4 linked regions of the Homo sapiens genome follow. The protein of the gene in region 1 purifies or fractionates together with the protein of each later gene. This does not show direct contact. Each region holds a gene or a part of one and is shown on either strand. Other genes may lie near its edges.

Evidence for each region. Proteins that work in one complex are often made in the same cells at the same time.
Region 2: the proteins of SERINC2 (region 1) and HS2ST1 purify together in Homo sapiens (affinity purification with mass spectrometry; one large-scale study listed by BioGRID and IntAct). This does not show direct contact.
Region 3: the proteins of SERINC2 (region 1) and RABL3 purify together in Homo sapiens (affinity purification with mass spectrometry; one large-scale study listed by BioGRID and IntAct). This does not show direct contact.
Region 4: the proteins of SERINC2 (region 1) and NIN purify together in Homo sapiens (affinity purification with mass spectrometry; one large-scale study listed by BioGRID and IntAct). This does not show direct contact.

What each region holds. Positions count from the first base shown.
Region 1 is NC_000001.11:31,419,713-31,423,212, forward strand, and holds part of SERINC2 (serine incorporator 2), read left to right. Parts: intron 1-3,500. UniProt on the Homo sapiens protein: Non-ATP-dependent, non-specific lipid transporter for phosphatidylserine, phosphatidylcholine, and phosphatidylethanolamine. Functions as a scramblase that flips lipids in both directions across the membrane.
Region 2 is NC_000001.11:87,071,635-87,075,134, reverse strand, and holds part of HS2ST1 (heparan sulfate 2-O-sulfotransferase 1), read right to left. Parts: intron 2,202-3,500; coding exon 1,963-2,201; intron 1-1,962. UniProt on the Homo sapiens protein: Catalyzes the transfer of a sulfo group from 3'-phospho-5'-adenylyl sulfate (PAPS) to the 2-OH position of iduronic acid (IdoA) or glucuronic acid (GlcA) within the heparan sulfate (HS) chain and participates in HS biosynthesis.
Region 3 is NC_000003.12:120,732,517-120,736,016, reverse strand, and holds part of RABL3 (rab-like protein 3), read left to right. Parts: intron 1-3,500. UniProt on the Homo sapiens protein: Required for KRAS signaling regulation and modulation of cell proliferation. Regulator of KRAS prenylation, and probably prenylation of other small GTPases. Required for lymphocyte development and function. Not required for myeloid cell development.
Region 4 is NC_000014.9:50,821,163-50,824,662, reverse strand, and holds part of NIN (ninein), read left to right. Parts: intron 1-1,153; exon of another isoform or gene 1,154-1,481; intron 1,482-2,585; 5' UTR 2,586-2,606; coding exon 2,607-2,789; exon of another isoform or gene 2,790-2,866; intron 2,867-3,500. UniProt on the Homo sapiens protein: Centrosomal protein required in the positioning and anchorage of the microtubule minus-end in epithelial cells. May also act as a centrosome maturation factor.

The DNA of each region.
Region 1 (3,500 bases):
CAGCTACTTGGGAGGCTGAGGTAGGAGGATCGCTTGAGCCCAGGAGGTTGAGGCTTCAGTGAGCTGAGATCACACCACTGCACTCCAGCCTGGGTGACAGAGCCAAATCCTTTCTTGAAACAAAAACCAAGAAACCAAAAAGAAAAATTAGCTGGGCATTGTGGCTGGTGCCTGTGGTCCCAGCTACTCCGGAGGCTGAGGTAGGAGGATTGCTTGAGCCCCGGAGGTGGAGGTTGCAGTGAGCCGAGATGGTACCACTGCACTCTAGCTTGGGTGACAGAACGAGATCCTGTCTCAAAAATTTTTCCCCCTATTATTTTCCTATTATGATCAGTGCCACAATGAATTTCCATGTGTTTGTATATATGTGCACACATCTGCCCTTACTCCAATGGTCTGGCATTTCTGTAGGAAGAGATTTAAATATATATAAAATGACATTTTGGTCAAATGGAAGAGGTTCTTGTAGGAGCCATTCTGGGGTGGGGTGAATGGAGCAAGGTGGACAAACATTTCCAAGGATGCTCTGGAAGCAGTGTGTGTTTTTCTCTTTGACCTGGTCTCTCTGGCTGCTGATCAGGCCCTTGGAAATCCTGAGATTTCAGGCATTAGGAACACCTGGATTTTGATGTTTAAGAACCAGAGCGAACTGAAAGGCCAAGCTCTCTGAAAGCGGAACAGCTTTCTTGTGTCTCAGATGTCTCAAATTGAAATTAAATGGTAACAAGCCAGCATCAGGACCTGACAGGGCACCTGGGCACCTGGCTCCTGAGATCAGTACCCACTGGCCTCCCTTGGTTTTCTGGTATTGGGTTTTTTGTTGTTTGTTTGTTTGTTTTTTCATCACTGGGATGTATTTAAATTAAATAAGATGACCATCAGTGAATTAGCGAGCTGGAACTAGTGTAGTCCTGTAGGCAGAGCCTGGCCCTTGGTGCACACAGATCTGAATTTGCATCCCAGCTCCTCAGCTTACTTGCTGTGTGACCTTGGTCATGCCACTTCTCTGTCTCAGTTTTCCCATTTGAAAATGGAAAGTTACCACACAATTCATAGCATCAGTGAAGCTTAATGTAGATAAAGTGCTTATCACAGTGCCTGGGACTGAGTAACCCTTCGTAAATGGTAGCTGCCACTAATACTACTTGAATCTCAGTGCTGTTATCAACTTGCTGTGTGACCTCTGGTAAGTCTCTTAGTCCCTCTGGTCTCAATTTCCACGTCTGTAAAATGGGACTAATAAGCTGCTCTAACTGATACCCAGAATGTTCTTTATAGCAGGGGTCCCCAACCCCTGGGCCATGGACTAGTATCTATCCATGGCCTGTTAAGAACTGGGCCACACAGCAGGACGTGAACAGCAGGTGAACAAGCATTACCGCCTGAGCTCCGCCTCCTGTCAGATCAGTGGCAGCATTAGATTCTCATAGGAGTGCGAACCCTATTGTGAACTGTGCATGCGAGGGATCCAAGTTGCGTGCTTCTTATGAGAATCTAATTCCTGATGATCAGAGGTGGAACAGTTTCATCCCAAAACCATATCTGCCCCCTGCCAGCACCCCTGCTGCCATCTGTGGAAAAAGTGTCTTCCCTGAAATTGGCTCCTGGTACCAGAAAGGTTTGGGACCACTGCTTTATGGCCTCTAAAACATTTTTCAGGCTTTTCTTATCCTCTCACCCACCAAGGACAGCCATGGATAGGAGGCAGGTCTTGGGGTGGCAGCTGCAAGATGTAACCAGAAGTTGCTGGACAGGTGGACTGTTTCAATTTAGACCATGAGGAATAGTTTCGTTTCCAAAGCATTTTGTTTAGCATCTGTGTGAACGAGAGATAGGCGAGGAGCATTTCTAGTTTGGGGGAGAGTAAGAGGGGAGGCAGATGCCCGCCAGCAGGGTGTGCTGTGTGCCTTGTGACCAGTCCAGAAAGAAAAGCAGAGGTCTCTGAGGAGCAAGGGGCCCCTGCCAGCCTGCTCTTTTCAAAGCTCATCTTTCAATTCCTGACCCTTGGCTCCAGCCCCTCGAGTGGGTGCCCACCGCTCTTAGGATGAAAACCAGTGTCCTGTTCCTGACTGCTGGTGCCTATGTGGTCTGGCCTTGCCAGCCTGTCTGACCTCATACTCACCGCTGACTGTCTGCTCACCAAGCTTTGGCCACGAGGGCCTTCTTAAATTCCTCAAATGCCCAGCCCCTACCCACCCCAGAGCCACCTGTCTAGAACTTTCTTTCCTCCCTTTGGTCTGGCAGTGTCTCCTCATCCCTCTGCTCTCAGCTTATTATTTTATTTTAAAATATTTCTTTTTAAAAGGCCAGGTGCAGTGGCTCACGCCTGTAATCCCAGCACTTTGGGAGGCTGAGGTGGGCAGATTGCTTGAGCCCAGGAGTTTGAGACCAGTCTGGGCAACGTGGTGAAACTCCGTCTCTACAAAAAATACAAAAATTAACCAGGCATGGTGGCGTGTGCTTGTAGTCCCAGCTACTCAGGAGGCTGAGGTGGGAGGATGGCTTGAGCCCAGGAGGCAGAGGTTGTAGTGAGCTGAGATTGCGCCACTGCACTCCAGCCTGGGTGACAGGGCAAGACCCTGTCTCAAAAAAAAAAAAACAAAAAAAGAAGAAAAGAAGAAAACCCTTCTTTTTAAAAGATACGGTCTCGCTATGCTGCCCAGGCTATTCTCTAACTCCTGTGCTCAAGCGATCCTCCTGCCTTGGCCTCCCAAAATGCTGGTATTACAGGTGTGAGCCACTGCACCTGGCCTGCTCTCAGCTTAAAAGTCACTTCTTCAAGGAGGGCTTCCCTGACATGCCACCCTCAATCAAACCTAGGCTGCATTAGCACTTTTCTGGCAGTGGGTACGTGTCCTTCTTAGCGCTTGTCACGATGTGAGTCATGATTTGTTTAGTGTTTTTCCTGCTTGTGTAAGCTCCAGGAAGGCAAGGCCTATGTCTGTTGCTCTCCAGGCTCTTAAATCCCTGGGTGAGGAGTAGGGGCTGTTTGGGGGAAGATAAAGTTTACCAGAGGTATCTGGATGTGGGGCCTGTTTCTTTAAAGGCTGGGCTGTGGACTGGGCTCCCAGGAGGGTGAGTCTCCTTTTCAGGTGTGGCATAGTGTGTCATCACCAGCCCCTGAATGATTTCAGCCAGGCCAGGGGAAGGGCTGACCGCAACTGGGGCAGAGGACCCTGGAGAGGGAAAGGGTTAGACCGCCACCTGCTGTCTAGTGCTGGTATAGCCTCAGAGCCGAAAATCATTCCGTTTATCCAACTGGTGTTTATTCTGCACTTGCTGTTTTCTGAGGTCTTAACATGTGACTGGTACTATGCCAAACACTTCATATTCCTTCAACAGATAGCCTGTAAGCTCCTGCTGTGTGACAGACACTGTTCGAATTTCTAGGAATACCACAATGAACAAAACGCAAAAATTCCTGCCCCGCTGGAAAGCGGAGGCCGACAAAACATAAAGCCTCGCTGATGGCAGAAGTCCCGCGGGGAAAAATTAAGTGG
Region 2 (3,500 bases), about 56 Mb from region 1:
ACAAAATATGATATTATTAAAATAAAAGTGTGTTATATCAGATGGGGTTCAGGGAATATTTAAAAATTATTTTTAAGAAATACAGTGCAATTTTTAGTTTACATTTAGATGAAGCTTACTAGATTAAAAGTGAAGTAAACATGAAAACATGTCACACAAAAGAAGGGGAAGCAGTAAATATAACTTGTTTGAAGAACTGCGTCTACATAGAACAAGAGATCACAAAACTGGAGATAGGGTATATAAAGAACATTTGTTAAGTAAGTTACTCTTAATTAAGATCAGGTTTTGGACTACCAGCTGATAATTTTGAAGTATGTCAGCTAATGATTAAGACTATTCTTCTGCGCTGCCCCACACAAACATTTTTTAAGTGTTGGTCATTATGCAATCCAATTGCTTTTAAGATAGCATTTATGCTTCTCTCCTGCTGTTTTTTTTTTCCTATACATAACCAACAAGTTATTAAAAGAAAAACAGAAGCTTTATCTCATCCAAATGCAACTGGGAAAATATACTACTACATGATGCCTATAAATGTCATATGTGGTGAGCTCCTCCAGATTTATATTTCATGAAAATAATGGTTGATGTCATTGCCAGACATCTTGCAGTTACCAGGACTTTGTAATGCTGAACAAACAAATTAACATTATTTTTCTAAAAAGTACTACTGAATAAATCTGAAATTATTATCTAAGCATGAATACATATTCCTTTTAAACCAAAGCATATTTTGAAAAGCAGTAATGCAAAAAGATTTAAAACCTACTACACACTGTATAAAAACAGAATATTTAGGATACTTGTCCTTGAGATACACAATATTACATAATGAATAGTTTTTATGACACACATAGCTAAAAACAACTCATGTTTCTTCTCATTCATAGAAGAGTTATTTGGTTTGGCCGACAGATGTGGAATTTTGGTTCTACAAAAAAGAGTACTCCAGGATTCTGCAAAGAGCCAAAAATTACATGGGCAGATGACATACCATATACTACTAGCCTTTACAAACAGCTCTCTAGCAAGAAAGCCAACCTTAGTCTTGTGTCTCAATGTAATTCTCTTGTTTAAGTGTAAGGATTATAGTTATGCTAAATAGTGAGATGACAGTCAATTCTGTAACAAGTTCACTGCTTTCAAACAGATAAATATCATTGTAACTACAGGACCATCACAAATATCTTTCTAATAAGCCTACTCCAATTTGGTATTTGATCCTAAGTAGTATTTGCAAACATTATCTTTCCTTCTCATGGGGTGGAATTCCCATGCCCTTCCATATTTATAGAGAGAACTTTATTTATAATTGCAGTCAAAATTCCAGGTGTGGGAGAAATGTATGCTACTACTATTAAAGAGATGAGCAAATTTTATTTCATAAGATAATTTCCTCTACTTTTCTTAAAACCATTTCACAAAATTATTTATTCATCTGTTTATCTAAAACTTCGTGAGAATTTAAAAGGTAAGATTATGTTGAAGAAGCCACAACTAAACTATATATACATTTATAAGCAATGTATATATAAACTCTCTCTGTATCTATCTCTATCTCTATCTAGTAAAGAGGGGCTGGTCACAAAATTGAATACAAGTATCCATCAAATATTTCTCCATCATAAGTTGAGACAATAATTTTTATTGCAGGGTATCATGCCAAAATTATATTTTTAAAAGGATACTATGCTCAGGAACATCAGTTTTCTCAAAAATTCAAGCTATTCATTAATTCATTTACTTCACAAATATTTGAGTACATACTATATGCAAGGAAATGTGTCAAATACTGTCAAGTAAAATTATACAAAAGTTAGCTGGCCCTCTCCCCTAAAAGGCTTATGATCCACTGAGATCAGCACTCACATCCCTTTAAAATACTTTATCCCCTTGAGCTAGAAAATTTGAGTGAGGAAGTATTAGAAAATATTTGGGCATTCCTTAAGTGGTAATTACCTGATCTTGCAATGACATCACTGGATTATTTTTGGTAGTGTTGATATGAAGGACATGGTATTTATTCTTTGCACACAGGTCATAGGCGATATTGGTAAATGAAGTGCTTGCCGTTTTGGGAACTCTGTTATAAATGATCACCATGTCCTCTTCCTCATCTAAAGTGGCATCTTGCCGAGGGCCATCCATTGTATGTCGCTGCTCAATTTCTCGGACTTCGTGTCTTGCAATAGCCCTTTCTGGAAAGAAAAACAGATACGAACTAAGTTTTTAAGGACACTATAAGGAAGTTATGAACACTGAACTTTGGACCATGATTAGAAAAGATACAAAAAAGAAAACAAAAAACAAAAGCAAAGAACCAAGGGATATGGAAAACATGGGTAAATTGCTTGGGTTTCTAAGAGGATCTAGTTGATTCTAAAACAGCTGTACAGCCTGGAACATAATCTTCCTATTCAAGAACTAGGTAAGAGCTGTTGAAGAAATGTTTTGAGGACCAAAGCTTCAGAATTCCTTATGAAGGATAATACATATGTATATCAAGAACAAAAAGGAATAAAGAGTCAACAAATGCAGAATAGCACAGACCACAGAGTACTTCAGTGCAGTTCAAAAGTCACTTTACATTCTAATAGAATTCCTACAGCCTGAACTAATTCTCAAACACACAAAGATTGCATGGAATACTAAACTTCACAGTATAAAAATGCACTTAAAAGAGAAATTACTTATAATTTAAGAAAAGGTTTTGAAATTTATTACCCGATTTAGTTATTCTCTGGTTTATAAAAATGTAGCAGGACAGTGATTATAAAGTGATTATAAATTATAAATTAAAAAACTGTAACAGGACAGTGATTATAAAGTGATTATAAATGCTAATATGACTTAACAAGAGTAGAAACAATATGACTTAGAAGGGTAGAAACAATACTACCATAAATCCTTTTTCTTTTTGGTGTTGCATTAGAAACTATGTTTAGCACATGGCTATGCTTTTCACTTAAATTTCATGGTTCCTCTAAAATTACCTATCTGCTATGTGGTTTCAAAAGCAGTTACATTTTGCTTTCTAGTATTCTCTATTTAATGCAAACTTCAGCTTCAAATATATATATTCAAATATCTATACATTCTAATATACATTCAAATATATATTTTTTCTTTTATAAATATATATGAATAAGGATGCAAGAAAAGGAGAGGAAAGAAGGAAATGAGGAGCGTGAAATCTCTAGCAAGATTGCAAATACTTTGCACGGGGATAGTTACACATATAGCACGTACTCTCTTAACCCCCAAGTCTTTGTGCAAGCTATCTCACCTATCTTGAACAATCTTCCATTTCCCCACCCAACCTTTACATTTCAACTCAATTGCTTCCCAGGGAAGCATCTGATAGCTCTGACTAGGTCAAATCATCTTTTTTTTTTTTTTTTTCGGAGACAGAGTCTCGCTTTGTCACCCAGGCTGGAGTACAGTGGTTCGAACTTGGCTCACTGCAACCTCTGCCTCCTGGGTTCAAGCAATTCTCT
Region 3 (3,500 bases), on another chromosome or scaffold:
ATATACATTCTTCTCAGCACCACATCACACTTATTGCAAAACTGACCACACAGTTGGAATAAAGCAATCCTCAGTAAATGTAAAAGAACAGTAGTTGTAACAAACTGTCTCTCAGACCACAGTGCTGTCAAACTAGAACTCAGGATTGAGAAACTCACTCAAAACCGCTCAACTGCATGGAAACTGAACAACCTACTCCTGAATGACTACTGGGTACATAATGAAATGAAGGCAGAAATGAAGATGTTCTTTGAAACCAATGGGAACAAAGACACAGCATACCAGAATCTCTGGGACACATTTAAAGCAGTGTGTAGAGGGAAATTTATAGCACTAAATGCCCACAAGAGAAAGCAGGAAAGATCTAAAACTGACACCCTAACATCACAATTAAAAGAACTAGAGAAGCAAGAGCAAACACATTCAAAAGCTAGCAGAAGGCAAGAAATAACTAAGATCAGAGCAGAACTGAAGGACATAGAGACACAAAAAACCCTTCAAAAAATCAATGAATCCAGGAGCTGGTTTTTTGAAAAGATCAACAAAATTGATAGACCACTAGCAAGACTAATAAAGAAGACAAGACAGAAGAATCAAACAGACGCAATAAAAAATGATAAAGGGGATATCACCACCGATCCCACAGAAATACAAACTACCATCAGAGAATACTAAAAACACCTCTACGCAAATAAACTAAAAAATCTAGAAGAAATGGATAAATTCCTGGACACATACACCCTCCCAAGACTAAACCAGGAAGAAGTTGAATCTCTGAATAGACCAATAACAGGCTTGGAAATTGAGGCAATAATTAATAGCCTACCAACCAAAAAAAGTCCAGGACCAGATGGATTCAAAGCTGAATTCTACCAGAGGTACAAGGAGGAGCTGGTACCATTCCTTCTGAAACTATTCCAATCAACGGAAAAAGAGGGAACCCTCCCTAACTCATTTTACGAGGCCAGCATCATCCTGATACCAAAGCCTGGCAGAGACACAACAAAAAAAGAGAATTTTAGACCAATATCCCTGATGAACATCAATGCAAAAATCCTCAATAAAATACTGGCAAACCGAATCCAGCAGCACATCAAAAAGCTTATCTACCATGATCAAGTGGGCTTCATCCCTGGGATGCAAGGCTGGTTCAACATGTGCAAATCAATAAATATAATCCAGCATATAAACAGAACCAAAGACAAAAACCACATGATTATCTCAATAGATGCAGAAAAGGTCTTTGACAAAATTCTACAGCCCTTTGTGCTAAAAACTCTCAATAAATTAGGTATTGATGGGACATATCTCAAAATAATAAGAGCTATTTATGGCAAACCCACAGCCAGTATGATACTGAATGGGCAAAAACTGGAAGCATTCACTTTGAAAACTGGCACAAGACAAGGATGCCCTCTCTCACCACTCCTATTCAACATAGTGTTGGAAGTTCTGGCCAGGGCAATCAGGCAGGAGAAGGAAATAAAGGGTATTCAATTAGGAAAAGAGGAAGTCAAATTGTCTCTGTTTGCAGATGACATGATAGTATATCCAGAAAACCCCATCGTCTCAGCCCAAAATCTCCGTAAGCTGATAAGCTACTTCAGCAAAGTCTCAGGATACAAAATCAATGTGCAAAAATCACAAGCATTCTTATACACCAATAACAGACAAACAGCCAAATCATGAGTGAACTCCCCATTCACAATTGCTTCAAAGAGAATAAAATACCTAGGAATCCAACTTACAAGGGATGTGAAGGACCTCTTCAAGGAGAATTACAAACCACTGCTCAACGAAGTAAAAGAGGACACAAATAATTGGAAGAACATTCCATGCTCATGGGTAGGAAGAATCAATATCATGAAAATGGCCATACTGCCCAAGGTAATTTATAGATTCAATGCCATCCCCATCAAGCTACCAATGACCTTATTCACAGAATTGGAAAAAACTAAAGTTCACGTGGAACCAAAAAAGCGCCCACATTTCGAAGACAATCCTAAGCTAAAAGAACAAAGCTGGAGGCATCACGCTACCTGACTTCAAACTACACTACAAGGCTGTAGTAACCAAAACAGCATGGTACTGGTACCAAAACAGAGATATAGACCAATGGAACAGAACAGAGCCCTACACATCTACACATCTACAACCATCTAATCTTTGACAAACCTGAGAAAAACAAGCAATGGGGAAAGGATTCCCTATTTAATAAGTGGTGCTGGGAAAACTGGCTAGCCATATGTAGAAAGCTGAAACTGGATCCCTTCCTTACACCTTATACAAAAATTAATTCAAGATGGATTAAAGACTTAAACGTTAGACCTAAAACCATAAAAACCCTAGAAGAAAACCTAGGCAATACCATTCCGGACATAGGCATGGGCAAGGACTTCATGTCTAAAACACCAAAAGCAATGGCAACAAAAGCCAAAATTGACAAATGGGATCTAATTAAACTAGCTTCTGCACAGCAAAAGAAACTACCATCAGAGTGAACAGGCAACCTACAGAATGGGAGAAAATGTTTGCAATCTACTCATCTGACAAAGGGCTAATATCCAGAATCTACAATGAACTCCAACAAATTTACAAGAAAAAAACAACCCCATCAACACGTGGGCGAAGGACATAAACAGACACTTCTCAAAAGAAGACATTTATGCAGCCAAAAGACACATGAAAAAATGCTCATCATCACTGGCCATCAGAGAAATGCAAATCAAAACCACAATGAGGTACCATTTCACTCCAGTTAGAATGGCGATCATTAAAAAGTCATGAAAAAACAGGTGCTGGAGAGGATGTGGAGAAATAGGAACGCTTCTACACTGTTGGTGGAACTGTAAACTAGTTCATCCATTGTGGAAGAGAGTGGGGCGATTTCTCAAGGATCTAGAGCTAGAAATACCATTTGACCCGGCCATCCCGTTACTGGGTATATACCCAAAGGACTATAAATCATGCTGCTATAAAGACACATGCACACGTATGTTTACTGCAGCACTATTCACAATAGCAAAGACTTGGAACCAACCCAAATGTCCATCAATGATAGACTGGATTAAGAAAATGTGACACATATACACCATGGAATACTATGCAGCCATAAAAAATGATGAGTTCATGTCCTTTGCAGGGACATGGATGAAGCTGGAAACCATCATTCTGAGCAAACTATCGCAAGGACAAAAAACCAAACACCACTTGTTCTCACTCATAGGTGGGAATTGAACAATGAGAACACTTGGACACAGGAAGGGAACATCACACACCAGGGCCTGTTGTGGGGTAGGGGGAGGGGGGAGGGATAGCACTGGGAGACATACCTAGTGTAAATGACGAGTTAATGGGTGCAGCACACCAACATGGTGCATGTATACATATGTAACAAAGCTGCACATTGTGCACATGTACCCTAGAACTTAAAGTATAATAATAAAATAAACAAATAAATAAATAAAATAAAACATATTTCTTTATACAGGGCATTCTTC
Region 4 (3,500 bases), on another chromosome or scaffold:
GCATTTGGGGGAAGATATAAAAGAAATAGGAGCGTGGATCTTACCATTAAAGAACTTTCTGCCAAGTGGGGAGAAAAAAATTCTTGCACATGAAATTACTGATGAACATTTGGGAAATAATATCAACCAGTAAAAATGCCTTCTGTGCCAGATGAGCACTGACAACTTGTCACCATGCGTAACATCTCCTGGATGTTTCAGCGTGAGCATTTGTTCCACAGGGGTGGTGCTTGTCTCCCCTTCAGTCAAGCACAGTGTTTTGAGAAGGAAGGAGATGAAATAAAGAGATAAAGAAAAGAAAGCTGCCATAAAATGAAAGAGGTTTGATTTAGTGAAAATCCAATGACCTCCCAAAGAGTGGGGCATGATAGTATATCAAATTCGACACCGTGGATAAGATCAGGGCTTCTCAGTACATCAGTGTTTTATTCCTCTCTTTCATTGGTTTAAGATGGACAAATCCCCGCCCCTTAAAAATAATTTTTAAAAAGGGAAGTGTTAGAATTCTTTCGCTTTTGAGTTTTTAAACATATATGCAAAATCAAGCAAAAGAAGAGTCTTGCTTTTATGAGGTCGGTCAGATAACAGCCCAGGGGACTGTAAAACTCAGAGTGAGACTAAGAGCTACCGCAACACTGAAAATCCTGGAGCACCTTGGGGATTCTCAGCAGATCTTAGTTGACAATTAACTGGTGGACTCTAAGTGAATCTTGTTAGCGAAGTGTTGGCCTTGTCTAAATTCTTAACTCCTGTGGCTTTGCATAACAACTTGGTGTTTCTTTTCTGAGGCTTTGATGTTTATATAACACTCTCAACTTATTTTGAAAACATTTACATAGTGATTAGTTAACCCAACAGACCAATCCTGGGAAGACAGCCAGAGCCTGCAGCACCTTAGTAACAGAAAAACTGATAATTAGGAGAAGAGACCTGTCCAAGACCAGGAACCTGGACCAAAATTGTGCCATGTTGCTTTACTTTAATGAGTGGCCCCAGTAAAAACTGAGCTGTATGGCAGAGCTGTTCACATTTATCTTCTGTGTCCACCCAGTTCTGCTGAAACCCCTGGCAAGATCGTGGCCCTGTTGTAGCTTGTCATGTTTTGAACAGCTGTCTATGGAAAGAAAGCAAACACAACCTAGAGCAACATTGATTTGTTTTAGAAAGCTCTTTTATTTTCAGTTCTGGCTGTGTTCAACATCTTAGCTTACGTTTTTCATGTTGTAATGATCTGCCGTATGGACGATCACCTCTAAGTTAGAGAGTTCTGTAATTTGGCTTGGATTAAAGATGCTTGGTTAGTGAAAGCTGCTGCTTTTTTTATAGTCAAAGGACTGGTTCTGAGAGCCTTGTTGCAGATGGCTGAGGTCACCGTCCCAAGGGTGTATGTCGTGTTTGGCATCCATTGCATCATGGCGAAGGCATCTTCAGATGTGCAGGTTTCAGGCTTTCATCGGAAAATCCAGCACGTTAAAAATGAACTGTCATGCAAGGAAAAAAAAAAAACCACAGATTTCATTAGTAAAATACGAGCTACCTGGAATTTTATGATGTATATTTTTAACAAAAATGACTCAGTTATTGACGTCTCCAAGTTTTTACTGATCCTAAGGACAGTGGCAAAATGGAAAGCCTGGAGTATGGGTAGGTGAGAGAGACGGAACACAGGTTAACCAGGCATAAAGAGATGAGATGCTTTAGTGAGTGGAGGTTCCCTGAGATGCTGTATGATTCATATAAACCAGTCAGTGGCTCCTTTAAACCTCACTGTCTGAAAGGTTGAAATAGTGTCTTCCCCTTTCTCTAGGCAACTAAGCATTACCTAAAACTCGCTGGGACTAAAGCAAGCTTCTGGGAATATTCTTCCCGTCACACCTCATGTAATTGCACCAGTGAAGTTAATTGAGTTGCTTTTTGAGGAACTCGTGTAAAAGGCATTTAGTTTCATGTAAAACAGGGAGGTGGTTTTGTAGCAGACGTCGTGTTCATTTAGTGCCTCTTGCTGCAGCCCTCCAGTCTAGCTATGATGGGGGCCATCTAAGCTGAATGAAGTAGAACGAATCAGCTTGGCCACGCTGACCGATTGCACCATCGGGGCAGGTTGTCTAAAGCTTGCCAGCTAGCATGGAAGCTCTGACCATGCAGTCTGCTGGCGCTAACAATTAGTTCACTTGAATAGTCTTGCTGTCAAAGTGGCTTTTCACCTTCTTAAAATCCTGGGCTAGAAGAGCTGGGAGAGAACCACCTTCAGCCTTGAGTTTGGCAGTCTGGCTGTCCGCCTGAGAACCAGGCAAGAGAGGAGGGTGTCTTCTACTGTACGTGACCCTCTCATTCTGGTAATTTTGCTCCCAGTGTGATCTGAGCTTATGTATATGCCCCTGATGTGAGTGCATGCAGGAGTGTCACTGGCCAGGGCTGGTCCTACAGAGACTGGGGGTCTTGCTGTGGGGTGCATCAGAAACTGGGTGTTCCCGAGCATTCCCTAGAGACTGGTGGGGTACAGAGAACGGGAATGTGCCAGGTGGTGACCACGGTAGGACTGGAGAGGCTGCCACAACCTGTCCTTGTCTCTGTCTTACACACAGGTGAGCACTGTGGGCTATGGGATGGATGAGGTGGAGCAGGACCAGCATGAGGCCCGACTCAAGGAGCTGTTTGACAGTTTTGACACGACGGGCACAGGGTCCCTGGGGCAGGAGGAACTCACCGACCTTTGCCACATGTTGAGCTTGGAGGAGGTGGCCCCAGTGCTGCAGCAGACATTACTTCAGGACAACCTCTTGGGCAGGGTAAGGTCTGGGGAAGAACGTGGCTATGGGAAGTGGGGTGCGGTTTCTGCCGGGGTGCTGGGGGTGGGGCGGACCACACATGTTGCAACTTGTTTCTAGCATCCTGGCTGTTACATGATAAAAAGAAGAATGTAATGGGTGTGACATCACAGTCCAGTTTGCTAGGGTGACAAGAGCCTGCTTTAATTTGTGCTCTGGAATTATGGTGTACAGTGAGCATCTTAGATAAAGAGGCAATGAAAGGATGTTTTCCAACTTTTTTCTTGTTCTTTGTGGTTTATTTTATTGACTCCACATTCATCACTGGGACAGAAAGGAGGAGGGTGAGATTTCCATTGAAGAGAAAGAAAATGCAGTAAGAAAGCTATTGTTATGACTTTTACTCCCAGTGAAGCTATTTCTTGTGTGGATTATTTCTGGGTGAAGTATTAATTAAACTTTCTACCCAGGAAATAAGACAGCAGGGTAAATAAATACAGTGCAGGTTCATTTAAAACCCAGCACGGCTTGCTTCCAGCAGGGATGTGTGTGTGCACGCCAATGTTAACCTCTGTGTTTGATGACAAATAGTCATGTTATTACCATAGATCAAGTCACAGATGTGAGTAAGAAGTGAGAGAGGGTCTTTTTTTCCTCTTGCCAATGGTGGATATTTGATCTGCCATGACCTGAGATTGCCTTCAATTCTCCTCATTATAATTAATAGCTTTT